Homo sapiens: one gene and its partners. The protein of the gene in region 1 interacts with the protein of each later gene in a biochemical or structural test. Each region holds a gene or a part of one and is shown in the gene's direction. Other genes may lie near its edges.

Region 1 (7,031 bases):
TTTGCAATTAGGGAAACTTGGAGGCTGAGAGAGGGAAAGTGACCTGCCCCAGATCACACACCGAGGCAGGTGATGGAGCCGATGTGAGCCCAGGCCTCCGCTTTCCGCTCTTTTTTTTTTTTTTTTTTGAGATGGAGTCTTGCTCTGTTGCCCAGGCTGGATGGAGTGCAGTGGCGCAATCTCGGCTCACTGCAAGCTCCACCTCTCGGGTTCACACCATTCTCCTGCCTCAGCCTCCCAGGTAGCTGGGACTACAGGCGCCTGCCACCACGCCCGGCTAATTTTTGTATTTTTAGGAGACAGGGTTTCACTGTGTTAGCCAGGATGGTCTCCATCTCCTGACCTGTGATCCTCCCGCCTCGGCCTCCCAAAGTGCTGGGATTACAGACGTGAGCCACCGCACCCGGCTCCACTCGTTTTTTAAGAGAGGGTGTCGCCCTGTTTCCCAGGCTGGAGTGCAGTGGCACAACAATGGTTCATTGCGGCCTCCACCTCCCAGGCTCAAGTGATCCTCCAGCCTCAGCCTCCTGAGTAGCTGGGACTACAGGCACGGACCACAACACCTGGCTAATTTTAACACTTTTTGTAGAGATGGGGTCTCGCTGTGTTCCCCAGGCTGGTCTTGAAGTCCTGAGCTCAAGCGTTCCTCCTGCCTCGGCCTCCCACAGTGCTGGGATTACAGGCATGAGCCACTGCGCCCGGCCTGCTGTTCACTTGAATGCAGCATTCCACAGCATGGGGGAACCCGGATGAAGGCTGTGTGAAGGCCCACACTGGACAAGGACCCCCCACGGGGCCTTCCCCATCAGACTGGAGCTGTCATTCCCCCACAGCACAGGATGGACAGGGGGAACGTCCAGGCTCGGGCCAGCCCCCAGGAGTCCAGGCAGCCCTGGAGTGTGGGGAAGGGAAACAGGCCCAGCTCAGCCTACTGACCCCGCTGTCTTCCTGTTCCAGACACGACCGACTTCCAGGAGAGCTTTGTCACCTCCGGCGTGTTCAGCGTCACTGAGCTCATCCAAGTGTCCCGGAGTGAGTGTTCCCGTCAGCCCTGAGCTGGGTCTTGGAGAGGGGAGGGGGCCGCAGGGAGGAAGGAGCCCACCCCCCTCACCCTACTCCTTGTCCTTTCCAGACAACCCCCTGTGTCACTAAGCCAAGGTTCCTAGAAAGGGAGGTGGCCAGGCCCTTCCCAGAGCCCAAGGTCAGGGCTCCCTCCCACCTCTCCAGGAAACAGAATCTAAATGCTGGATGGCAACTAAGGAAACTTCTGCCCCAGCATCCCTCCTCCTCCCTGGGGCCTCCACTGTCCTGTCCCAGGAGACCCCAAAGGACCCCGCCCCTCCTGTCCCCTTGCTTTCTCTGCTGACCTGCTGGGGACCCAGCACATTCCGTCACACACTGTCTGAATCCCACCCCAGCGAGTCCTGGGCGCTGTCCTTCTTTAGCCCTGACTGACACCTTCCCTGTCCAGATCAGCAGAGCCTGGCCTCCAGCTTTGGCTACACCTCTGCCTCACAGTGTGCTCTTGGCCTCTCCCCATGGCCTTGGTCCTCTGATCCATAGAATAAAACTGGTTTCAGCCACCCTAGGAACCGGGCCAATATGGGAAGGGGGTCCCCCTTTGGACTGCACCCAGTGGCTTTCCCTACCTCTCTAAAGCAAACCGCAGCACTGGGCACTGCTTCCTGCCTCACTCTCCTCTGTCACCCTCTGCAGCACCCGTGGTGACTGGAACAGGACCCAACTTCTCCCTGGGGGAGCTGCAGGGGCACCTGGCATACGACCTGAACCCAGCCAGCACTGGCCTCAGAAGAACGCTGCCCAGCACCTCCTCCAGTGGGTAAGTACCCAGGTCCCCACCTCTGGGCATTTCATGACCCCATTCATCAACCCATCCCCTCTGGCCCGAGCTGACTCATTCCTCTCCCTGGAATACCTCTTTTCACGATTCACCTGGCCTGAGAAACTCCTACTCATCTCATCCTTCAAAACCCAGCCAGCCCCACGTGCCTCTTCCCCTAGCCCTGACAGCCCACCGTGGGCTCCCCCAGCCTCAAGTCCTGCCGGCTCAGCCAGCCCTTAGGACCCTCCCCACCCAGAAGAATGCAGACACAGGTTGTTGCTGAGATATGCTTTGTGACCTCGAGCAGGTCACACTGTGTGTGCCCCAGTTTCCCCATCCATAAAATGGGATCATACCCCTAACAGGCAGTTCTGAGGACTACAGGTGGCCAGGAGATTAGCCAGGCTGCCTGGGTTTTGGTCTCCACCATGCTAGCTTGGTGTCCGACCTGTGTTGAGACCCTCCCTGCCTCTGGCCCGGGTGTCCCATCCAAGCAATGGACAGGTTGGAACAGGCGTTCGTAGGGAACGGGCTGAACGCCCGCGGCTCCCGCGATGTCTCGCGATACTACCTCCCTCGCCCCCGCTCACTTAAGGACCGGAAGTAGCAAAGCCCGCCGTCGCGCCCCCCGCCCCGCGTCTCCCTGGTAACCAGCCTCTCCCCTTCCCTCGCCCATAAGGAGCAAGCGGCACAAATCGGGCTCGATGGAGGAAGACGTGGACACGAGCCCTGGCGGCGATTACTACACTTCGCCCAGCTCGCCCACGAGTAGCAGCCGCAACTGGACGGAGGACATGGAAGGAGGTAGGGCTGGTGGCGGGGGCGGAGCCGGCCTTCCGGTCTGAGTCACCGTGGCGGGAACTACGTCTTCCGGCAGCCACTGCGCGGGCGCCGCGGGGCAGGAAGCCGGCCTGGAGCCGCGGGGCCTCCTGGGAATTGTAGTCGTCCCGAGCTGCGCTTGGCTGGAAGTACGGTCCGGGTTCGCGTTCTCGGATCTCTTTGGTTCCGCTGCGGCGAAGGAGGGCAGAGACTGTCCCCTGCCTGACTCTCCTGCCCTCCGGCCGTGAATGCCACATCTCTGTGGGGTCCCCGAGCTGCAGGATGGACTCAGTAGTGACTCTGATCAACAGGGCGCCTCTTCCTGGGATCTGTCATAGAATCCCTCGTCTGTAGGGACCCTGTTTGTCCTCTTCCCCTCTAGAAGGTCCTGAGATGCCGGATCCCTTCTCATTGGGGTCCTTCTTGAGGTTACTTTTTTTTTTAACCAGGTTCCCATCTCCATGGGATCTTCTGGTTCTGCAGGAGACTCGTCTCCTTTCTGTAGGGTCTCCATTCCCATGGCGTCGTTTTCTAGGAAGATTTTATCCTCTTGCTTTTCTGTCTTCAGAAGGGTCCTCTCTGGGGTGTCTTTCTTTCTTTCTTTCTTTCTTTCTTTTTTTTGAGATGGAGTTTCGCTCTTGTTGCCCAGGCTGGAGTGCAATGGCGCGATCTCCGCTCACTGCAGCCTCCACCTCCCTGGTTCAAGCAATTGTCCTACCTCAGCCTCCCAAGTAACTGGGATTACAGGCATGCACCACCATGCCCGGCTAATTTTTTCTATTTTTAGTACAGACGGGGTTTCACCATGTTGGTCAGGCTGGTCTCAAACTCCCGACCTCAGGTGATTCGCCCGCCTCGGCCTCCCAAAGTTCTGGGATTACAGGCGTGAGCCACCACGCCCGGCCTCTGTTTTTGTTTGTTTGTTTGTTTGTTTGTTTTTGAAACGGAGTCTCGGTCTGCTGCCCAGGCTGGAGTGCCGGGGTGCAATCTTGGCTCACTGCAGCCTCGACCTCCCAGGTTCAAGTGATCCTCCTGCCTCAGCCTCCCAAGTATCGGACTGCAGGTGCATACTGCCATGCGCCGTTAATTTTTTTTTTTTTTTTTTTTTTTTTTTTGGTAGAGATGGGGTCTCACTATGTTGCCTAAGCTGGTCTTGAACTCCTGAGTTCAAGTGTGATCTTTCCTCCTGCCTCGTCCTCCCAAAGTGCTGGGATTCCAGGTGTGAGCCACCATGCCGGGCCCCTCTTATTTTTTTTTAATTTTTGTTTTTTGAGATGGAGTCTTGCTCTGTCACCCAGGCTGGAGTGCAGTGGCGAGATCTTGGCTCACTGCAACCCTTCCTCCTGAGTTCAAGCAATTCTCCTGCCTCAGCCTCCCAAGTAGCTGGGATTACAGGCACCCACCACCACACCCGGCTAATCTTTATATTTTTAGTAGAGACAGTGTTTCACCATGTTGGCCAGTCTGGTCTCAAACTCCTGACCTCAGGTGATCCACCCACCTCGGCCTCCCAAAGTGCTGGGATGACAGGTGTGAGCCACTGCTCCCGGCCACCTGTAGGATTTTTAGAAGCAGTATAACATTAGGATTAAGAGGTCAGATTCAGGCATTGGAGAGACCTGGGTTCAGATCCCAGCCCTGCCCGTGTCTAGCTCTGTGTGCTGTGTAACCTGGGGCACATCACTTAACTTCTCTAAGCCTCAGTTTCTTCATCTCCACAATGGGGGTGATGTGAATAATGTTCTTTGGGAGCTACAGGAGGAGGAAGGGTAGGATGTGCGTGAAGCAACCGTCTGGCCCATGCGACATACCCGGGAAACGGGAGGTCACTGTCATCCACGTCTTTATAACATTCCTGTCTCTGACCAGGCTCGGTGGCTCACGCCTGTAATCCCAGCACTTTGGGAGGCCGAGGCAGGCGGATCACGAGGTCAGGAGATCGAGACCATCCCGGCTAACACAGTGAAACCCCGTCTCTACTAAAAATACAAAAAAAATAGCCGGGCGTGGCGGCGGGTGCCTGTAGTCCCAGCTACTCAGGAGGCTGAGGCAGGAGAATGGCATGAACCCGGGAGGCGGAGCTTGCAGTGAGCTGAGATGGCGCCACTGCACTCCAGCCTGGGTGACAGAGCGAGACTCCGTCTCAAAAAAAAAAAAAAATTCCTGTCTCTTTCCGGCACTCGGACGCATCTAGTTGTGACATTTCAGGTGCCAAGGCCCCTCCCTTCCACAGTGTGGGCTCCCAGAGCAGGAACATTCCTAAAGGGTCTCCATCCCTCAGGGGACCTGTCTCAGTATTTATGAGGTTCTTTTTTTGTTTGTTTGTTGTTTTTGTTTTGAGATGGAGTCTTGCTTGTTTTGAGAGATCACGCCAGTGCACGCCAGCCTGGGCAACAGAACGAGACTATGTCTCAAAAAAAAAAAAAGAAAAAAAAAGTCACTTCTGTTTCGTTTTTTTTGTTTTTTGTTTTTTGTTTTTTTTTTGAGACGGAGTTTCGCTCTTATCACCCAGGCTGGAGTGCAGTGGTGCAATCTCGGCTCCACCTCCTGGGTTCAAGTGATTCTCCTGCCTCAGCCTCCCGAGTAGCTGGGACTACAGGCGGGCACCACCACAACCAGCTAATTTTTGTATTTTTAGTAGAGACGGTTTTTACTATGTTGGCCAGGCTGGTCTTGAACTCCTGACCTCAAGTGATCCGCCAACCTCAAGTGATCCGCCCATCTCAGCCTCCCAAAGTGCTGGCATTACAGGTGTGAGCCACCGCACCCAGCCGTGACTTCTCATTAACTCTGTAATTGATGAGGCTGTCAGAATGTAAACTGCACGCTAATTAAAGTGAAAGACCACCTTTGCGATGAGCCAAAGCAACCCTGAGAGGAAAAATTGTAGCTTTAAGTCTATTTATTAGGAGAGGAGAAAGGTGGAAAATAAAGAATCTAGCTTTCAACAGAGAAAACTCAAAAAGAAAACATTTTAAGCTCTGGAGCTCAGTCTGACTTTTCTGCCCGGCTGCTCACTGGCAACCCCTTCCACTGGGGAAGGAGGTGGTAGCAATGGGGGGAGGACAAAGAGGAAGCCCCCACCAGCTTCTGCTCTGTGATTGGGAATCGCAGAGCTAGCAGGGAATGTCAGAGGAGGTCTGTGCTCCTGCAGCTTCCACTTGATTACCTCAGGGGATGGCAAACTCACTCCCTCCTGAGGGTTTCTTTTTTTTTTTTTTTTTTTTCTTTTTGAGACAGAGTCTCGCTCTGTCGCCCAGGCTGGAGTGCAGTGGCGCCATCTCAGCTCACTGCAAGCTCCGCTTCCCGGGTTCACGCCATTCTCCTGCCTCAGCCTCCCGAGTAGCTGGGACTACAGGCACCCACTACCACGCCCGGCTAATTTTTTCTATTTTCAGTAGAGACGGGGTTTCACCGTGTTAGCCAGGATGGTCTCGATCTCCTGACCTCGTGATCCGCCCATCTCGGCCTCCCAAAGTGCTGGGATTACAGGCGTGAGCCACCGCACCCGGCCTCCTCCTGAGGGTTTCATCCTCAGTGTAAAGCCCTCCTGTGTGCTGGCCCTACCTGAGGCCCTGGGGACACAGAGATGATCCAACCCACTCTTGTCCCTACCTTCCAGGGGCTAACAGCCTAGTGAGGGAGATGGGTTTTTATCCAGGTGACTACAGCCCAGAGGAGGAGGCACAGAAGACAGTCAGGGGGAACAAGAGGACCCTGATAGAACTTGGAAGAAAAGGGAGGACCTCCCCGAGGAGGAGAATCAGGCTGACAGAGCAGTGAGGAGCTCGGGCAACTGGCTTCTCTGCTTCTCCAGCTGTGTGACATTTGGCAGGTTCCTTAACCTCTCTGCCCCTCAATTTCCTCTGCTATACGATCAGGTTGCTGGCCGGGTGCAGTGGCTTACAACTGTAATCCTAGCAATATGGCAAGACCCCATCTCTACTTAAAAAAAAAAAAAAAATAGCATCACATAGTGGTGTACACCTGTAGTCCCAGCTCCTTGGGAGGCTGAGGTGAGAGGATTGCTTAAGACGGGAGGTCAAAGCTGCCCTGAGCTATGATCATACCACTGCACTCCATCCGGGGCAACAGAGAAAGACCCTGTCTCAAAAAAAAAAAAAAAAAAAAAAAAAAAAAAAAAAAAAAAAAAGGCTCACCTGTAATCCCAGCACTTTGGGAGGCCGAGGCAGGCGGATCACCTGAGGTCAGGAGTTCGAGACCAGCCTGGCCAACAGGGTGAAACCCCATCATTACTAAAAACACAAAATTAGCCGGGTGTGGTGGTGGGCACCTGTAATCCCAGCTACTCGGGAGGCTGAGGCAGGAGAATCACTTGAACCTGGGAGGCGGAGGGTGCAGTGAGCCG
Region 2 (7,031 bases), 1.6 Mb from region 1:
CAGGGCTGTCCCGGGGGCCATTGAGAACGAGTTCCACCCCCACCCACCCCTGCCTGGAGTGCTTCTCTGTAAAGGGAACACCAGTCGTGGCCTGGCCCCATTTTTACAGATAAACCAACTGAGGCACACTGGAGGAGCCCCACCTGTGATTTCGGCCACATTTGGCCCTGGGAGCAGGGAGGCCAGGGGAGCAGTGGGATGTTCTTCATGGGGGCAGCAGGCGGCAGGACTGCACCTCCCGTCCCCTGGGTCTGGCCCACAGCCCCTATCCTAGCCCGGCCAGCTCTCGGCTCTCTCTCCCCTGCGTGGGGCGGGGAAGGACTTTGGAAGCTGTGGGTGATGTTGACGCCGTTGCTATGGTTACGGAGAGTGAGCGAGCCAGCGAGTTGGGGCGGGGGCGGGAGGAGAGGCTGGCTGTCGGCTCCCTGCTCTCCAAACCCCCTGCATCCCCGGAGGGCCCCCCCCCCGCCCCCGGCATGCCAGTGCCCGGCACACCGTCAGCCTGCACCTCCAGAGGGTTTGCCGACACCCTCCCCAGGAGAGGGGCTCAGACCTGGAAGGGTTCTTCTCACCCAGGGCTTCTCTCCTCCGCACTTACCGAGACATTTGGGGCCTGATCGTTTTCTGGGGAGGGGCTGTCCTGGGCACTGCAGGGGGTTATGCAGTGTCCCCAGCCTCTACGCACTCCATGGCAGGAGCACCCCCTCCCCAGTCGTGACAATCACAAATGTCCCCAGACCTTGTCAGGTGCCCCCCAGGGGGCTGCAGGGTCACCCCCAGTTGTATCCCACTCTGAAGTCCCCTGCCGCAGGCCAGCACCCAGCATCCCAGTCCCCGCGCCCCAGGACTTAGGGAACTGTGTCCGTGGTGGCGGGGGGCGGGGTGGGGGGTGGCAACAGGGATGCTAGTGATGACGGAAAGCGCTTCCTGGAGGAGGCAGCCTGAGGCCCACTGGGCTGGGTGGGGCAGGGAATGGGAGAGGAAGGGCGTGCTGGCTCTGGGGTCTGCTGTGGAGGTAGGGACTTGAGGTGGGGAGGGGGCACCTCGGCAAGGTGAATCCCTGCACTTAATCCCGAGGGTGGGGACGCTGGGGGCGGCAGTGAGGCAGGCTGGGCTTTGCAGAGGCAAATCCATTTATGGAGAAGGGATTAGGATCAGAGAGGGGTTGAGGAGGGCAGGACGAGATGTGGGAGGGATCGAGGCGTGCTGGTCTACGCACTGGGTTGGAGGGAGACTCCTCAGGACGAGGTGTGCAGAGGAGTGTCTGAGTGCCTGCCAGGTTTCTGATCCCTTGCTGAAGAGGGCCCCAGGAGGACAGGTGGGTGGGGAAACTGAGGCCCAGAGGGGGAAGCAGCCATGCCCCACTTCATTCTCTCCTCCACCCCCAGGCAGAACTATGCGCTCCTGTAGGGTTGGGATGGCAGTGCTGGTGGGCAGAGCTTGGGAGAACTGGCAGCTTATCTGGGGAGGGTCGGAGTGGGGCAGTGCCAGGCCATAGGGGGTGGGGGGTAGGGGGCCAGGGACTGCCCTCCCCCACCCACCGCCTCTCCAGCCTGCAGAGTGCAGAGAGCAGCTGGAACTGCCTGCAGGTGCCCCAGCTAGTGGGATGGGGAGGGCTCCCCCAGGGTTGTGGGGGGCGATAACCACCCCCACCCAGGCTCTCTGATAAAAGCAGCCCAGATCGGTGGGGAGGAGGCACATGATACCAGCAGGGTGAGCTGTGGGGGCGGGGGGCACCACCCTGGCTTAGACCATTTCTGGAACAGAGGTTACACAGGCACCAGGGTCCTTGAGGGGGTTGTCCCCTGCCGACCCCCAGGTACCCAGAGTCTGGTGCAGGAGGTCCTGGCCTGGGTTGGGCCTCAGGTGGGCCTCCTTTTATGTAGAAGGGAGTAGTGATAGTTTGGCGGCGGGGTGGGGAGGACAGGAGTATTCAAGATGCTGAGCAAACATTATCTGCCCTTGCTCTTGTTGGAACCAGAGCTTGATCCCCTAGGCCTGCATTCTCCTTTTCCACAGATATGCATTAAGCACCTGCTGTATACCAGGCCTGTGCTGGGCATTGCCGGGGACCCAGCCGTCAATGAAGTGCCTGCCTTCTGCTCCCACTGGAGTGCAGGGGTGCAGATATTACACCCACAAGATGCATGCGTTTTTGGAAGCCTGGTACAAAGACAGAGAAGCTGACCAAGGGTGCTTGGGGGGCACCAGGCCACTGTGAGGGGCACTGCTGCTCAGAGAAGCTCCGGGCAGGATCAGCCATCAGTTTTGACCCTAGGCCAGGGCGGAACTCAGGAAAGCCAAGCGCAGTCTGGGTGCCCAGGCGGGAGCTGCTGGACTACTGCACTAGTCCAGGAGTGAGCTGGGAGGGGCAGGGTGGGGCCTGGACGGATCCCGAAGGTGATGGGATTTGGCTGGCAGGTGGCACGTGGGGAGGTACGGGATTGACACAAGGGTGGGTATGCCTGCCTGCGTGTTTGGCGGGAACAGCAGGGGGTTTGGAAAGGGGAAGTCTACTGGAGGAGTGGGGATGGGGGAGGAAGGAAGCTTTGGCTTTGGGAAGTCAGGGGAGCTAGGGGCAGAGTGGGTGTGGGGGTTGCTATGGCCCAGTAGTATTCGAGACCCCACCCCCAGGCTGGCAGGGCCTCACCACCAGTGTTCCCCCTTTTCTGCAGCGGCTCCCAGAAGCAGCTGCCTATAGGTTCTATAGAACCTGCTCAAGGATCACCTTCAGGAGCTCCTCCCTTCCCTGGGTGGGTAAGAGGCCTCCCCAGCCCCAGCCTTTCCTGGCTCTCCTGGGATGCTTGCTTTGCGGCTGGGGCTGGTCTTCCCCACCTGTGCCCTCCCCTACAGACCCGACCCCACCTGTTAGGTGGACGTGAGTGCCCCGGCAGGCAGCCGGCCACAGCCCCCCTCCCCACCCCAAGGCCCCCCAGACAAGCTCAGGAGGTGAGGCTTCCCTGTCGGAACCAGGGCCCTTGGCACAGTCCCGCAGTCCTGTCTCCAGGCCCCTCCTGTGCCGGCTCAGACGGGGCCGGGCCAGGTTTCCAGGACTTCCTGGACTCCATTTTTCTGAGCCTGCCTGTTTCCGAGGCTGTCCTGAGCTCACCCGGGCCCAGCCTGAGTCAGAGGGTCAAGTCCACCGCGGCCCCGCCCACACTGCCCTCCCGCGTTGTCCCCACCCACCGCATCCTCAGGGCGCTGCGTCTCGGCCAGGTAGCGCGGAGCAGCTGGGTGGCTGTGCACCTGGGGGCCCGGCTGGCTAGGAGCAGCGCGCTCTGGGCCCCCACAAGTTCACCCCACCCTCCTCCCTGCGAGTGGATTGTGTGCGAGGCAGGGCCTGGCATTTCGCAGAGGCGCTTCGCCCAGCGCAGCGTGGGTGGGTAGCCCGTGCACCCCCTGCCCCGCCACCCACGTGCGCATGTGCGCGCCTCAGTCTCCAAGCGCGGGGCGGGGCTGGCAGGCACCCAGGCCGGAGAGGCGACCCTGGCCCGGGCCCCCTGGCCCCGGCGGGAGTGGGACCACGTGAGCGGGGCCGGCTGGGGCTGCGGATGTCCCCGCCGCCGCCGCCGAGCTACGTGCGGCAGCTGTGTTCCCAGCGGCTGCGCGCCCCTGCCCCGGTCGCCCCCCCCACCCCGGCAACCTGCTCCTCCTTGCAAAGTGGAACTGGGGGAGAGGGAGTGGAGACCAGCCCCGCCGCCCTGAAAGGGGAAGTGAACCAACTGACTGTCCGGCACCCAGCCGTGGGATGTTCCCCCTTCCCTCCTGCCGCCTCCCCGCCTGTGCCTTGCAAGATGGCGACACGGCGGCATGTTCCCTGGAGGGGCGCGAGCCCCAATCCCGTGGTCTGCTCCAGCCGCGCTCCCACAGCCAGACCCCGTCCCCAGACTGAGGCCCTTGGGAGCTGTCAGGGCCCAGTGGTTGAGATGGGAGTGGGGTCCCTTCCAGGGCTGCTCTGCGCCTCTTGCTTGGGTTGTAGACGGCCCCCAGCTGGGGCGGACCCGCGACCCCAGCTGCATCCTGGGTTGCTTGGGGGAGACTTGGGGTGTGGAGCAGGCAGCCCCAGGGATTTGAGGCTACTGTTGGTCTTGGTGACAGCTGGTCTCTCCCCCTCTCCAGCTGCCTGGATTCACAACCTCTTGGGGAGGGGGGCTGCTGGTCTCTGTCTGCAGTCTTGTTTTGCTGAGGGTGTCGGGGTGTGGCAGGGAGGAAGGATGAGATGAGAAGGGAAGGTTTTTTCTTCCAGCTCTTCTTGGGTCACGGGTGATCGCTGGTGCCCCTCAGTGGGCAGACCCCTCCACCCTCCCGTGCCCCTCCTCAGCTGGGCTCCCCAGGGCAGCCCCTGATCTTAGAGCAGAGATGTCACTCGGTCACCCTGAGCATGGCCGTGCCCCTCCCGCCGTCTCTGTACCCCTCACCATGGTCCCTGCTGTGGGTCCTTCTAGGCCCCTGGCTGGCTGCAGTTCTTCATGGACCGGTGGGAGTGCTCCCAGGGCCAGAGCAACCTCCAGTGCTGGGCGTGGGCTGCCCAGTTTGTAACCCACCGGGTGACTACCCTCCTGGCCCTGCTGTGGCTTCCTTGAGAATAGGCTTTGGGGCCACTCAGGGGAGTTGGTTCTGACGTCTCTTTTGCTACTCAGGGCTCCAACCAGTGCCACGAGGGGCATGCACATCCGGTCTCCATCCACACAACCCACCCTGGGGTGTCACGGGAATAACGTCCCGGAATGCCAGGGTCCAGGGTACCTGGTGCAGGGCCCGAAAGGGTGGGAGCTTCGGGGATGCAGGGCCCTTTGTCCTGCTTCGGTCCCTGGGTGGAGGTGGACTGACCTGCCCCTCCCCAGTCGTTGGAGACCCCTATCTGCTGGGGAGACGCTGACATCACGATGCCACATGCTGTGGGCGTGAGACCCCGGCTAAAGGAAGGGGTCGGGTGGCACAGTTCTAGAGCAAAGACCCACACCGCCTGGAGGCGCACAGGCAGGCCCAGATGGTGACGGCTGGTTAGGGGCAGGATGGGCGAGGCCCGGCCTTGGCGGTGGGAGGGGACTGTGGAGGAAGTGGCCGGGTGGTGGCCCGCCCCTGCCCAGCGCCATCTGTCCCGTGGGGGTGGGGCGAGTCCAGCCCGCCGGGCCCCGCCCCTTCCCGGGAGACCCCGCCCCCTCCCCTCCCTGTGAGCTTTCCTGCCTGTCTTCCATCTAACCACACCCCGAGATCGGGGCCCAGACTGACTGTGCCTGCGGGTTCCTCCCATGCCCCCTTGCTCGTGGAGGGGCCAGGAGGGTTAGGGAGGTTGCCATGATTGTACCCCCTTAACCCAGCCTTTGCATCCCAGGTGGTCATTTGGAAAAGGAGGGGATCATGCACAGATGGAGGCCCCTGCATGCCCCTGGGTGGGGGGCAGGGACAGCCTGAAGGCCGAGCATGCCTTCTGAGCGTGCCTGTGCCTGGGACAGACACTGGGAGGCCTTTGCTAATCCCTGCCAGGGTCCCGCCTGGGGCCAGAGGCTGCGAGGGCCTGGGGAGCTTCAGCCTTGGGGGTCTGCGGCGGTTACTTACGGTTAACAGATTCTGGGCTCGCCGGAGAGTCCTTTCTAAGAGCTGGTAGGAAATAAGAGGATTATTTATTAGGGTCTCGTGTTGGGCCACCGGGGGGCGGGTAAGGGTTGTATTCTTTGTGCTTCTCCATGTTTTGAACTCACACCAGAGCTCAGCCTCTAAAACGGCACGGGACAAATGCCCGCCACCCTTTGGGATCTGCTGGAACGTGTCTGTCATCTCCCCCCGCCCCCGCTGACCCGCTGTCTGTCTCTGTCTCTCCGTCCAGGGGAACGCCCTTTTGCTTGTGACTGGCAGGGCTGCGACAAGAAGTTCGCCCGCTCCGACGAGCTGGCCCGCCACCACCGGACGCACACGGGCGAGAAGCGCTTCTCCTGCCCTCTGTGCTCCAAGCGCTTCACCCGCAGTGACCACCTGGCCAAGCACGCCCGCCGCCACCCCGGCTTCCACCCGGACCTGCTCCGGCGCCCTGGTGCCCGCAGTACCTCCCCCAGCGACTCGCTGCCCTGCAGCCTGGCCGGGAGCCCTGCGCCCAGCCCCGCGCCCAGCCCAGCCCCCGCAGGCCTGTAGGGCCCTCGTGCAGCCCACCCTGACCGCCAGGATGCTTCTGCCATCCAGGGGTGTAGTGAGGACCCACGGGGAGCCTGGGCCCCTTCCAGCCGTGGGCAAACCCTGAAGACACCCCTGCCCCCCTCCAGAGAGTGAGGAGGGGGCCTGAGACTGGACCTGGGTCTGCCTGACCTCAGAGGTGGCTCTCAGGATGGGTGACGGGGGCTTGTGTCTGTAAATAGCCATGATACTAACTTTCTTCCCATCTGTGCAACGGGGCCCCCCCAGGGCAGCTAGGAGGTCCTCCCCTCTCCTCTCCACCACCCCCTGCTGCCCCCCTCCCGGGGTGGGGTTTGGGGGGGTGGAGTGGACTTCTGGGAGCCGGCCCGGGGAAAGCACCCCCTGCCCCATCCCTGCAGATTGGGATGAAGTGTTCAGACAGCCATAGAGGAGTCGGGGGTTGACACGGCCCCTGCCTCTCCCCACCCCACCCCCACCCCACCGAAAGCCATGGGAGTAGTTCAGGGAAATGGGGGTGCAGCCCAGCCACCCCCCATTCGGGTACTCAATCTCAGGTGTCCACAAGTTCTGCCCACGGTAGGGGCTGCCTGGCCCCCCAGACCTCGGGGGTAGAGCCAGGAGTGGGGCAGCGTTAGGATGCCCGGAGGGGCTCCAGGTGTTGCTTCTGAGACCTGGGATGGGGAGGGAGGGGACCTCTGGGTTCTTCCAAAGAACATTTGACTCAGTGGGGTCGGGAGGGAATCCTGGCTTATTTATTTTCCTCTGTCCTCGGGTGTGGGGGCCCTAGCTCGCCCTCTCTGGGTGGGTGGGTGAGAGAGGCTGCAGGGGAGGCTGGCACCGGGCTTGGGCCTCCAGTCCCTGCCTTGCTGACTTTGGCCGTTGCGGTATCACGTGACAATCAA
Region 3 (7,542 bases), on another chromosome or scaffold:
TGGTATCTAGGGTCTAAAATGGAGTTAAAAACCCATACATACTCAACCCCCTAGCCCCAACACACACACACACACACACACACACACACACACACACACACACCTAGTCAAGCTCCTTGCTCATAAAGATAGCAGCCTGAGGCACAACTAAATTTATAGGACTCAGCAGGCCTGCTAGAGCTTGTCTGGGATGGTGCGGTGCCAGAATTTCAAACCCTGGCCACATGTTTCTGGCCCATTGGCCATTCCTAAACCAAATTTAATCATGCCTCTGAATGTCTCAAGCAAGCAGTTTAGTTGCTGATTTTTATAAACTGGTTTATTTATACATACAGTGGCAAGGGTTATGGGGAACACAGGAGCATGTTCTCAATATCTATGACCAGAAAGAGACTCAACCTAAAGCTGGTAGTTTTCACAGTTGCCATTGCTATGAATATTAGTTAACCTTTATTGAGAGCTTTCTTTGTGCCAGACACTGTGCTTTGTAGGCTATAATCTCATTGGCGGCCAATCTAGGTTTTGTGGGGCTGGAAGCTTATACCACTTTGGGGACCATCTTTAAGAAAAACACAATGTTTGATCCCTTCTGGAGTCTTGGAAAGGGGCGTAAAGCTTAAGCTTCATTAATTTTACTGTAAAGCCACCTCTGCATCTTATTTAATCTTTTTGACAATTCTGTGAAGTAATATCTTTAAAAGAAATAGGTGAGGAAATGTTTAGAGATGTGAAGGCACTTGCCCAGGGTTGCACAGTTTGCAATCTAAATCATTGTTTTATCCCCGCAATCTCCTTCCAGGCTTTCTTCTCTCAGCTAACTAGATTTCCTTCTCCAAAATATCTTTATCCTTTGCTGGCAGTAACCTTAGTGCTGTCCTCTGGGACATGTGAGGAACTTAACACTGGTTCAACATTAGCGGAGGGGCAAAAGGTCTCCTTCTAGCTGAGCTCGCAGAAGGAATATGCTCTCTGGGGAACTGTGGAATAAGAAGAAAAGTGGGTGAGGAGGACAATTTTGTTCCCACTAGGTCTGAACTATGCCCTGGTTTTAGCTACATTTTTGTTGTTCCACAAACAACAGTGATTTAATGAATGCAGATTTTTCTGTTTGTATATTGCTTGACTTCCCTTTCATTCCCCAGCCCAGCTTTACCCAGCTGAGGTCCTAACTCCCCTCCCATCTACCCACCCTTCCTCACTTTGCCCTATTCTGCCCCACCTTCCTGTCAGGCCCAGCTTCTCAAGCCTTCTTTTTTTTATTGTTGTTGTTCTACTGGGAGCAGAGAGGGTGGAGTCCTCTTACTGAGGCTTTTCCTCCTCCCTTCCCTCCAGCCCTCAGACTGGGCTCCACCCTGGTAGTTTGTCAGCTGGCTTTCAGGAGGAGGAGAAGCGGGATGATGAAGAGGAGAAAGAGAAGAAGGGAAGAACAGCATATGTGGGCCCAGAATCGTGTCTGCATATTTCTCAGCTGCTTTTCATTAGGTTCCACACTTAATTTAACACTCCTCATCTGATTACTTGGATATATAGAGGAAAGCACAGGCTGCTTCTTCAAGCAGTCTCCCTCACGCATAAGGTGGGATGGAAGGAGTTGAAAATATCGCAGGTTGCTATTTGGTTCATGTTTATTCTAGCCAGCTAAAGAAAGGAGAGCCTGAGGTGTTTCCTAGACGGACAGGGAAATTTATCAAAACTTCTAGTTCCCCATACCTGCTCCCTCACACCCTTTCGTGTGACATAGACAACACCAACCACATGCTGATTATTTCTATGTGTCAAGAGTAAAAGAATATAAAGGCAAACTCCTGCCTTTGACATTAACTGTGGTCATGGGTTTCATAGTTCCCTGTGAACCATCTTTGGGTCCTAATTTGAGTGAGACAGAGGCCATCTCTAAAGGACTTGAAGGGGAAATGTGGACTAATAGGCTGTGTGCGTACAGTGAAATTGAGGGTTCATCCACTGGAGCCTCTTAGAATGGATGTTCTCATTCCACCGCCCCCCAACACCTAGCATTGTTCTTGATAAAGCACAGGTGCTCAATACATTTTATTGACTGAATAGATGAAAGAACAGATGGGAAAGGATCTTGGGTTTGTTTTTCCAAGTTTCAATAACTTCAAGTTTTCCAAAAACTGAATTTGCCATCTAAGGTCTAAGTTTTCCCCACAAATAAAGTTGAGGCAGTATTTCTAAAACAAACAAAAAGCTAGAGCTTAAAATAAATTTGTCAACAATAAAGACTTTTAATAAAATATAAACTGTTAAGCTATCTGTGTATGGATCGACCTTCTTGAAAAGCTATTTCAGACTGAAAAAGTAACTCGATGACCTTAAGGCACACCCACTGTATTCAGGGCTAGTAGTGGCTACTCTTTTCAAAATGTTACTTCAGCAATCTACTCATTTTCATCTGCACATCACAAAAATGCATTTATTATTGATATAAACTGCTTAATGTCTTTCACACACTTGAATCTAAGAGAAAACTTTTCAGCATTGCTCAAAACAGTGCTGTAGTGGTAAGAATCCTATATTGGATAATACTCCCCAAATTTTATACATTGAGAAACAAAGCCTCCAAGGAATAAAGTAAATTTTTTAAATGAAGGCATAGAGAGTTGTACACTTCTCTGTATGATTCCATCTCAATATATCTTACCTTGTAAGCTTGGCAGGGGTGCAGGTCGTGGTGAAGAGATATAGTGAGATAGAGAGTTATTTATGAAACCCCTACTACAGGGACATTCTTTTATGAAACAAATACATATGCATGTGTATTTATTTAACCTGTCACTAAGTTTCCACATCTGTAAAATGGGGATAGCAATGTCTACCCATAGGATTGTCAGAAGGATTCAATGAGTTAATATACATAAGAGGCTTACAACAGAGTTTAGTACATAGTTAATGCTCAATAACTATTATTATTGTTAATAATAATATAACTTGGCATCCAAGTTACAGAAATGAGATCGCCTGGTGCTTCAGCTCAAGGACTTTATAGTTTAGTAGGGGGAGGCAATTATACCAACAAATATGTGCCCCGAGGTAGAGAAGGGCACAGAGGAAGCAATGGTCAGTTTTGCCTGAAGAAATTAAGTAAGGAGGGGAGATGACCTTGAGTTAGTCCTTTCAAGAAAGTGGACAGATTCATTGGAAGGACATGCAAGAAAAAAAAAGGTGGACAGAGAGCTTAGTCTATTTCAGTCAGAGAAAGTAAAGCAACCCAAGGCATAGAGATTGGAAACAGCTTGGAATTCCCAGGGATTTGTAATCCAGGTAAAGCCCAGGAGAACAGCAAAATCTCTGCTGCTTGAGAGGCAGACAAAGGCCAGATCACAGCAGGTTAAAGGATGAGTTCCAGGGTGCTGCCTTGGATGTATGGTGGTGCCATTCAGGTAGTTGGTGAACTACAGGAGGAAGAACAGAGTGTTTTGGGGAAAGGAAGGTAGATGAGATGCACAGAAGACATTCAGGCAGAAATATCAACTAAGTAAGTAGACCTATGTGTTCGAAAGTACTGGGCTGAGGCCTTCCGTTTCCTTATTTTTTTAAATAAAGGGCACAGAGAATATAACAGTACCTAGTTCCCAGGGTTGTTATTGGGACTAAATGGGGAAATGTTGAATGTAAAAGCACCTGGCTCAGGGACTTGCCCATATTAGGTGCTGAATACATGGCAGATATTATTATTTCTCCTGTCTCTTTGCTCTTCCTCCCTCTGCTTTGTTTCTTGTCTCTCTTCTTTTTCCTCCTCTTTAAAAGAATTGTGGTAGGGAAGAGGCACTGAAAATGGGCTGTGGTTGCTTGTGACTTCCTGGCCTCCCATTAAAATGAGCTAGAGAGAGACTTTCAGGCAAGCGTAAAGAAATCCTGGAAACATGGCTCCTATCCTGTGGATTCAGCTTTACGGGGATCTTCGCCAATGCCTGGCTGAGAGGCGGTCTCAGGGGGTTGAGAACTCTATTCTTAGAGGTCTGGTATCTGGGAGACTGAGAAAGCCTTTCTTAAGTCTCCCTGCTGGGCCACGCTGTATTCACAGATCATCTTCAACTCCTTCTTCTTCCCCACCTACTCCTTCGCCCTCACCTCCTTGGCTTATCTCTTGCTAGAAAATGCACCAAGCTCCAATCTCCGTTCCTTTTAGCTTCCTCCCTGAGAAGACACTGTGACCTCGCTGTCCTTGTTCGTGTTACCATGGAGAGGTAGGAGGATAAATATCGCTTCCAGTTGTCAGCTTTTTTGTTTTCTCCTTTCCCTCTTAGACAGCCCCCAGCCCCAATCCCAGTACCCGTTTCACCACCCTCCCCTGGAGAATTAGCATAACCGGAGTAAATAGGTAATCAAGCAGTGTGCTTGCAAGCCTTAATTTTGGGACAGATAAGGAAGTGAAATTGATTGGAATTATACCTGCCGCTGCTGGAGGCTGAGGGAGGCGGCCGCCGGAGGCGAGGCCAGCTCTGTCGGCCCAGGGCCCCGCCCCACCCCCTCCTTCCTCCCTCCTCCTTCTCAGCCCCACCCTTCTCCACCTCCTCCCACTTTGCACTCTCCTCTAGCGGCCGCCTGTCCTTTTTAAGGAACTCCACCCTAGGTGGAGTCCTCACGATAGTCACACCTCTCCTTTGGGCCTAGCAGGGCCAGAGAAAGACGGAATCACTCTACCCACTCAGGTTGCCCAGAGAGCACTTTAGGTTCTGACTCGCGTGGGGCGCGAGGTACCCCGTGGGGCAGCTAGGTGCCTCCAAGAAACCCCGCCCCAGAGGACCCGCACGAGTTGCTGCCATTTTTCGCTGAAGCCCCTGCCCTGGGGCTGGTGTTCTTCTCTATGATTCTACCAATCGTCGGCATTTTTTTCCTCCCTTCTTTCTTTTTAGGAAGGCGCTGGGGTGTGCGGCGGCAACGGCGGCGGTGAAGGGATCCTCTTGTGGTATCTCCTCGTGGGTTCCTGTCTTGAAGGATTTCTTCTCCGCCTCAACTTTATGTTCAAGTAGCGCTTTGGGGGTTGGGTTGGTTTTCATAGCCCCCACCCCCGGCCCTCTCCTTTTAAAGGGTGTGTGGAGTTCAGAGGATGGGTGGAGAGCGGGCTTGGCCGGAACTGAATTGGTAGAGGTAAAAGGGGAACGGAGGACCTTAAGCTCTGGCCACTTCGGCCCAGCGAACCCACTTTATTTTTGTCCAAGGAAAAGCTGCAGGGGGGAGGATTCTTTTTAGGAAGTCTACTCTGCCGGCCCCTGATTTTTGGGTTGGATGCTTGAGAGCTTTGTTTCCCTTGTTCCGAGAGTGGCCCAGCTGGGTCTGAATCGACTCCCTCCCCTTTCGACCCCCTCCTCATTTTCCAGCCCGGAGAAATAGGGGAGTGGGGGCCCAAGAACGAGAAGACGAGAACGCGTCGCCCTGCGCTATGTCAGAATGGGGCGGGTGTGAGGGGAACAGCTCTCTTGCGATCAGCTCAGGAGTATGAGCCTCCCGGAGGACGGCATGAGTTCTGGACACTTCAGGAGTCCTCAGCTAGTGACATGGTCGGTAAGTGACTCTGGGACTAATACCCACCCACTCCCACCTCTTTCGTCTAGATTCTATCCCCCTCCCAGTCCCCCTGCTCCCCCCACACACCCCACTTGGGGTTTCAGCAGTGGGGGCGGGAGCGGAAGGTTAAGAACACTATGTGGAATCAAATGAAACTCAAGGGAAAATGACTTTGCTAAAGGGCTGGGCAAAGAAAGGCCAAGAAGGAGAGGAGAGAGCTTGGTGGAAGAAGTGAAAGGGGGCAAGAATGGATGGATTTGTCTAGTCTAGTCTCCCCTGGCTCGGCACTCCCAATACTCCTTAAGCGGTAAGGATTGTCTTTGACTTAACCCCACACAGCCAAAGTCACAACCAGAGAGAACAGGATTCACAAGGCCAAAGCTCCCAGGTAACCCCCTGAAGCCATAGCGGGTACCTAGAGAAGCTTCTGAAAAGAAGGAGGAGGGGACAGTGGTTTAAGGTGCAAAGTTAGGCTATTGGAGGCACAGAGTGAGGCCTGGAAGCAGCTGCGGGGGAGGAGCTGCTTTGGGCGTGCCAGCTCTTTAAGGAGGGGCTGAGCTTGGTTGGAGAAGGAAGCCAGAGCCTAGGCTCTGCTCCGGCCCTTTAAGACGTGGCCAAGGCAGTTGGTTCGTCTGTGTAGGTGGAAGACTGACTGGGCCGAGTTGCTGTGATTGCTGAAGTGAATCCATTTGTTTAGCCACTTGGCGGAGCTGTCTTTTTGTGGGCTTTTTTTTTTAACCCTAAGAATTTGGGAAAAAATAAATCACATCCAAACAGGTGGCCAAAGGCACCATGTCTTATTTCTTTTGGTATTATATTCATCGTGAAGAAACGCATTTATTAAGCACCTGTCACCCAGTGTGGTAATAATTGAGCAAAAAGAATAATCTTTAAATTTGGATTTGAAACTGATGGAGATTGCCATGGTTTGGGGTAATCTGCTTTGAAACCCTAGTATCACCACTTATTAGCTGCATCACCCTGGGCCTTGCTTTTCTCTTCCATAGAATGCAGATTAATAATTCTATCTCAGTAGATACTCGGGTGGATGAAATATCTTGTGTATGTGGCAGAGGCTGCCACTTGTATCTTAGTTCAACTTCCCTTTTCTACTCAGTTTGGAACTATTTTTCTGGACCACTGCTGATAAAATTAGTGTTTTTCTGTCCTTAAAACACCTTCCAGATGTGGTAAAACGAAACTTAGGAAGACTGAATTAGTTTGTCCAAAGGCTGAGGCTAGAACACAGGTTTTATTTGCTTCTGATTTAACATTGTTTCCACCAGACTTCATCACTTCTGAAAGAAAGGGCTACTAGCCTGCCTTTTCTCTCATTCTTTGGGCAACTTAACCAGAATGATATAACCAACAGGACTTTTGGACAACAGAAACAAGTGATAGGTAAATGACCTCATCCCATTCTTCAGAGTTATGGGGAAGCCCTTGAGAGTTGTTGACCTTTGGTGACTGCTGGGGACACAGAGAATGGGTGGGGAGCAATGTCTTCAGGTAAGCCTGGAGGGCAGACAGGCAGAAAACATAGGAAGAGTAGAAATAATAACCTCAAAAGTAAAAATGACAGGTGCATCTATGTAGTCCACCCTCAAGACCAACTTACTTAATGGCTGTACCTTCAGAGCCCTCAGGAGCTATACATCCCTCTTGTTTAGACTTTTCAGGGCACATTGGAAATTGGGAAAAAAATAACCATGTAGCAGACTACCATCACCACTCTCATTGTTCTAATACATGCATTTCTGAGGTGGGGTTCTCATTGGCTAAGTGAATTCCAATAACCAAAGTAGCAAACAGAGCCTAGTCATTTTTGATCTTGCCAGATTGTCTGTGCCTGGTGCGGTGGGGGCAGTATATGATCTTCTAAGATCTAGCTTTACAATGCCATGATTTTGTGAATGAAGGAAAACTTAATTAGGATGATTGACATAGATGATCATCTAGTATGATTACCATCTTATTGTTAAGTAGAGTATGAATAAGGGAATAACATTGTAG
Region 4 (4,252 bases), on another chromosome or scaffold:
GTGGTTTTCATTGCAGGTGACTGAGGCTGAGCTGAGTAGCCCTGGACCACCGCTGCAGATTGCCTGAGTCGTCCCCTTGGTGCACAGTGTGCCTTCTTCAATTGCTTGTATCATTTATTCCACAAGACAGGCTGTGGGCTGTAAAATGAGCAAAACTAAAATGTGGGGAGAACAAAATGACAATCAATCAGTGAACATTTGTAGACACATTTGGATTCCAAACCTGCAGTCTGTTCAGCCATATCGGCTGATGCCAGTCTTCCAGAGTTCCCCATCCCTTGTAGGGTGAAATATTTGGAGTCTGTTTTGAAGGAGTTGGTTTAGATGAGCTTGCAAGTCTACCCCTCTGAAAGCTTTCTCTGCTGTCCTAGCTGACTCAATTGGAGGACAGTTTTGGTCATTTCCAGGAACCAGCAATTTTTTTTTGGCCTACCTTGGTTGGGAAGAGTAATTTAGGGAGCAGCCCTAAAATTGTCCAAAGGGTTCTAAGTGGTTCTTGGGCTGCATCTCTCTGGATTGCTGGCTGGACACCTGCCATGCCTTGGGCTGCAGTCCCATGGTCAGAAAGCCAGAACTCTCTGGCCAGTGGTGGTGCAGGGACTCCCCGTTGTGCAGGTTTGCAGTAGCAAATCACTAAGCCTGAGGCCAGAGCAAGGCCAACCCCCGCTTTACGAGTTGCCACTCCTGCGACAGACTGCACTGCTGTGGGAAACGCTGTCCTGAATGGTGCTGCAGCTCCCACCCACCTTGTGCACCCATCTACCATCAGGAAGCTCTCCATGTGCAAACTGGAATTTAGCCAGCTGGAATTTATTCCTGTCCCTCTGGGAAGCTGTGTTTGCTTCTTCTGGCCTCCCATTCTCTTAAATGAGATCAGCAGAGTAGGAAAGGGTGAGAAGGCATTGCCTATCACATGAAGTGATGGGGCCAGAGACCCTAAGGACCCTTCCTTCTACGAATGGTTGGTCACCTTTTGAGGACTGCAAAGACTTAGGCATGTCATAGGCAGACTAAAGGAAGAATACACAGTTCCTCTTGGACTGCTACATCTTTTGTAAGCCCTTTTCCAGGACTAAACTAAGTTCAATTAAGTAAGTTCTTTAAAACAGTAAATTCCGGGATCAGCCTTCGGGCCCTCTTCTCTGACCAATTTTATAGCGTACCCTCGTTTTTTGGTGTGCTGCAGTGGTCATGATTTTTGCTTGAGAAGTCTGCAAACATAGACACTTCTCTTGAGGTTCCATGTTTATGGATGATGTTGTGTTAATCCTAGCCAATTCTGTGCTATTGGGAATTCTCCAATCATGAACACTGGGGTGGGGAGGAAGACACAAATGCCATGTGAGGAAAGGAAAATGCAGTCGTCTTTTTGGAGGATGGCTTTTTAAATACACCCTTCTTAGCAGGCTGCTTAAAATACACAGGAGAAAAGGCTCTGCTGGGCAATGAACCAGATGAAAAGCTGCCCACCCAGATCACTGTTGCAGGTTGACTATTTGGCTTAGCAACTCATGGGATTTCAGAGGCCCTTGAAGTTTTTGGTGAGTATAGTGTGGGGGAGAGCAGGCTTTTTAAAAGGGGGGGGGGCATCCTCCTCTGTGTAGCACTGTTTAAGATCACTGTAAGTAAGTTGACCAGTTTTTGTAAGTTAATCATACTAATTCCCAGTTCAATAGTGGAAGGAGAGGCCTTCCTCATTTATACTAATAATATAATAAATCTCTTGAGGAACTCAGTGAGCAGTTGACGAGGTCAATAGTTCTTTGGCATCAGTAGGGCTGGTTAGCTGGAAAAACCCTTGAGAGCACTGGCCTGAAAACCAGGAGAGCTTTGTTTTCCAGAGCCACCTCCCCAGAAAGCAGCAAACACTGCTGCCTGTTTAGAAGCACAGCCACAGTAGGTCTAAGATTTTAAATGGATCTCCCTACAGGTTGGGTTAGCATTATGGGTGGGCTGGTGCCACTAATGAGCCATTGCATGACAGGACTCTTCTGGGGTTTGGAAATGGAGAAAAGCCGGGCATTCATTACTTTTAGCTTCTCTTAGAGGCACTCCTCTGTTGCTTGGAAGTCTATTATGGGGTATAAGGTGCTACATGGTAGCTGTTTCCCCCCTTGCTAAAATGACATGGATGAATTTTAAAAATGAAATGAGACCTTCTAGAGGCAACCATTATCTGCAGTGCCTGGCTGGTCGACTTTAGAGTAGGAAGCTCTTGAATCCAGGAGCAAATTAGTTAAAACCCCAAGTTCCAGTGGTAACTGGTATAAGCAAAATGGAAACTGAGGGGCTATGGAGGAATCTCTGTTTGTTGGAACGTAATGAAACCATGGAGGAAATACCAGATTTAAGGGCTAAGAAGCTGGCCCGATGGGTAAATCAGTGTTGGGAGTCAGGTTCTTGGCCCTTCAAGGACTTGCTATGCAACCTCAGGCAAATTCCTCTCAGTCTTTGTGCTTTCTCTTTCTTGTCTCATCTGACAGTTATGAATATAACGTAAAATAAAGATCAACTATCATTGATAACACTGTTCCTGCAAATGAATACTGTGAAACATCAGGGAAAGAGGAAAAAATTAAGCCACAAGAAAACCATTTGGCAGTGTCCTTAAACTTTTTTTGGGGGGGGGCAGTGTAAAACATGAAACCTAGTAAGATAATTGGGCCATTAGATCTTCATCATTAAACTCACTTTGCAAGGAAGTGTAAGAAATCTGTAAAACAAAAGACATTCCTATCTCAGAAGCTCAAACTGGTGATTTCCAACTGCCTCTTTACAGGAGGGGGCTCAAGGCTTCTGATGAGCAAAGGCTGTGTGTTGTATGACAGTCCACTCTCTGCACCTACACTTCCACGTGCCACGACTGACAACTTGGTTATAACCATGAAAATAATGACCATACCTCCCCAGCCAGCAGGGTCTGGAAGGCCTGAGGAGGCTCATTTTTAAACACTGCACTTTAAAAATTGGAAACCGTGAGATGAAGAAAAATTCAATTAAGCGGAAATGAGTTTTGTTTTATTGCCTGCTGCTGAAGGGCTCTGGGCATGCTGAAAGCTAAATGAAAAGCACATCACTGGCTCTCTTCTTTCTTGGATTGGTCAATTGGCCCTTTTTGCAGTAGTTGCTCCAACTGTTCTAAACAGTGAGTGACTGGAGCCAAAAAGAGAGAGCTCAGCAAAGCCATCCCATCCACACTCTGCTTGGTAGGACCACACTAAAAGCACAGTTTCATGCTGCTAGCTCTGGTAAGGAGACAGCTGCAGGTTTGGGAGGTGCACCAAGCATTCCTTTGCTTAGGGAGGCAGAGCACAGGTGAACAGAGGAAGGACACCCCCACTCTCATCTATTGCCCACCGAGAGGCAAGAATCACACCAACTTTCCCACTTGAGGACTGTGTTCGGCCAAACAAGCAGGTTCAGGGCTGCGGGATTCCAGAAGTTGCTCTGAGCTTGCAATCAGACCTCAAAGCCCCAGATCCCCTCAGCTCTGGATCGTTGCCCTCATCCTTCACAATGTAAATTTTGTACAGTTAAAGAGAAATGAAGTCTCGTTTCCTGGGGAAAAAAAAGAAAAAAAGAAAAAAAAAAGACCCACCCATCCTTATTTATTGCCATATGACTTTGGAAAACAGAAGCTGGTGCGTTTGTTTGTATATGCCTCCTGTGTGTTGGCATGAGATGTGTACGGTAAAATTATGTAAAATAAATATGGAAATTCTTTAGATGCTGATGTGTCTTGCTTTTCATTTGGTTTGCTGGAAGTTTTTTCTCTTGACATAAATAGAATAAAAACTGAGTGATGTGAGGTCCTTTCCTTTTATCATCAGAAGGAAACCAAATATACAACTCTGAATGCCAGAACTATTATACTTAGAGCCATGAAATACCAGAACCACTCAATAAAGGACTGATTAGAGGAAGTTCCCTGGTTTTTCTAATAGTCATTTCCTGGGCACGATCCTCTGCCCCCAGACTTAGGAAATGAGCAGTAGAAATGTTGACCATATAACTTTTAGTTCCTGTTTGTTCAGTGGCATTTTTAAAATTTTTTTTTGAGACAGAGTCTTGCGCTGTTGCCCAGGCTGGAGTGCAGTGGTGTGATCTCAGCTCACTGCAACCTCTGCTTCCTGGGTTCGAGTGATTTTCGTGCCTCAGCCTCCAGAGTACGTGGGATTACAGGCATGCGCAAACACGCCTGGCTAATTTTTTGTATTTTTAGTAGAGACGGGGTTTTGCCACGTTGGCCAGG

What was found.
Region 2: the proteins of NFIC (region 1) and KLF16 form a complex in vitro, tested with the Homo sapiens proteins (one study listed by BioGRID).
Region 3: the proteins of NFIC (region 1) and KLF8 form a complex in vitro, tested with the Homo sapiens proteins (one study listed by BioGRID).
Region 4: the proteins of NFIC (region 1) and LHX4 form a complex in vitro, tested with the Homo sapiens proteins (one study listed by BioGRID).

Annotation. Positions count from the first base shown.
Region 1 is NC_000019.10:3,432,561-3,439,591, forward strand, and holds part of NFIC (nuclear factor 1 C-type), read left to right. Parts: intron 1-957; coding exon 958-1,032; intron 1,033-1,716; coding exon 1,717-1,840; intron 1,841-2,522; coding exon 2,523-2,647; intron 2,648-7,031.
Region 2 is NC_000019.10:1,853,557-1,860,587, reverse strand, and holds part of KLF16 (Krueppel-like factor 16), read left to right. Parts: intron 1-5,827; coding exon 5,828-6,129; 3' UTR 6,130-7,031. UniProt on the Homo sapiens protein: Transcription factor that binds GC and GT boxes and displaces Sp1 and Sp3 from these sequences. Modulates dopaminergic transmission in the brain.
Region 3 is NC_000023.11:56,227,816-56,235,357, forward strand, and holds the start of KLF8 (Krueppel-like factor 8), read left to right. Parts: upstream 1-4,540; 5' UTR 4,541-5,460; coding exon of another isoform or gene 5,461-5,519; coding exon 5,520-5,526; intron 5,527-7,542. UniProt on the Homo sapiens protein: Transcriptional repressor and activator. Binds to CACCC-boxes promoter elements. Also binds the GT-box of cyclin D1 promoter and mediates cell cycle progression at G(1) phase as a downstream target of focal adhesion kinase (FAK).
Region 4 is NC_000001.11:180,275,258-180,279,509, forward strand, and holds the end of LHX4 (LIM/homeobox protein Lhx4), read left to right. Parts: 3' UTR 1-3,727; downstream 3,728-4,252. UniProt on the Homo sapiens protein: May play a critical role in the development of respiratory control mechanisms and in the normal growth and maturation of the lung. Binds preferentially to methylated DNA.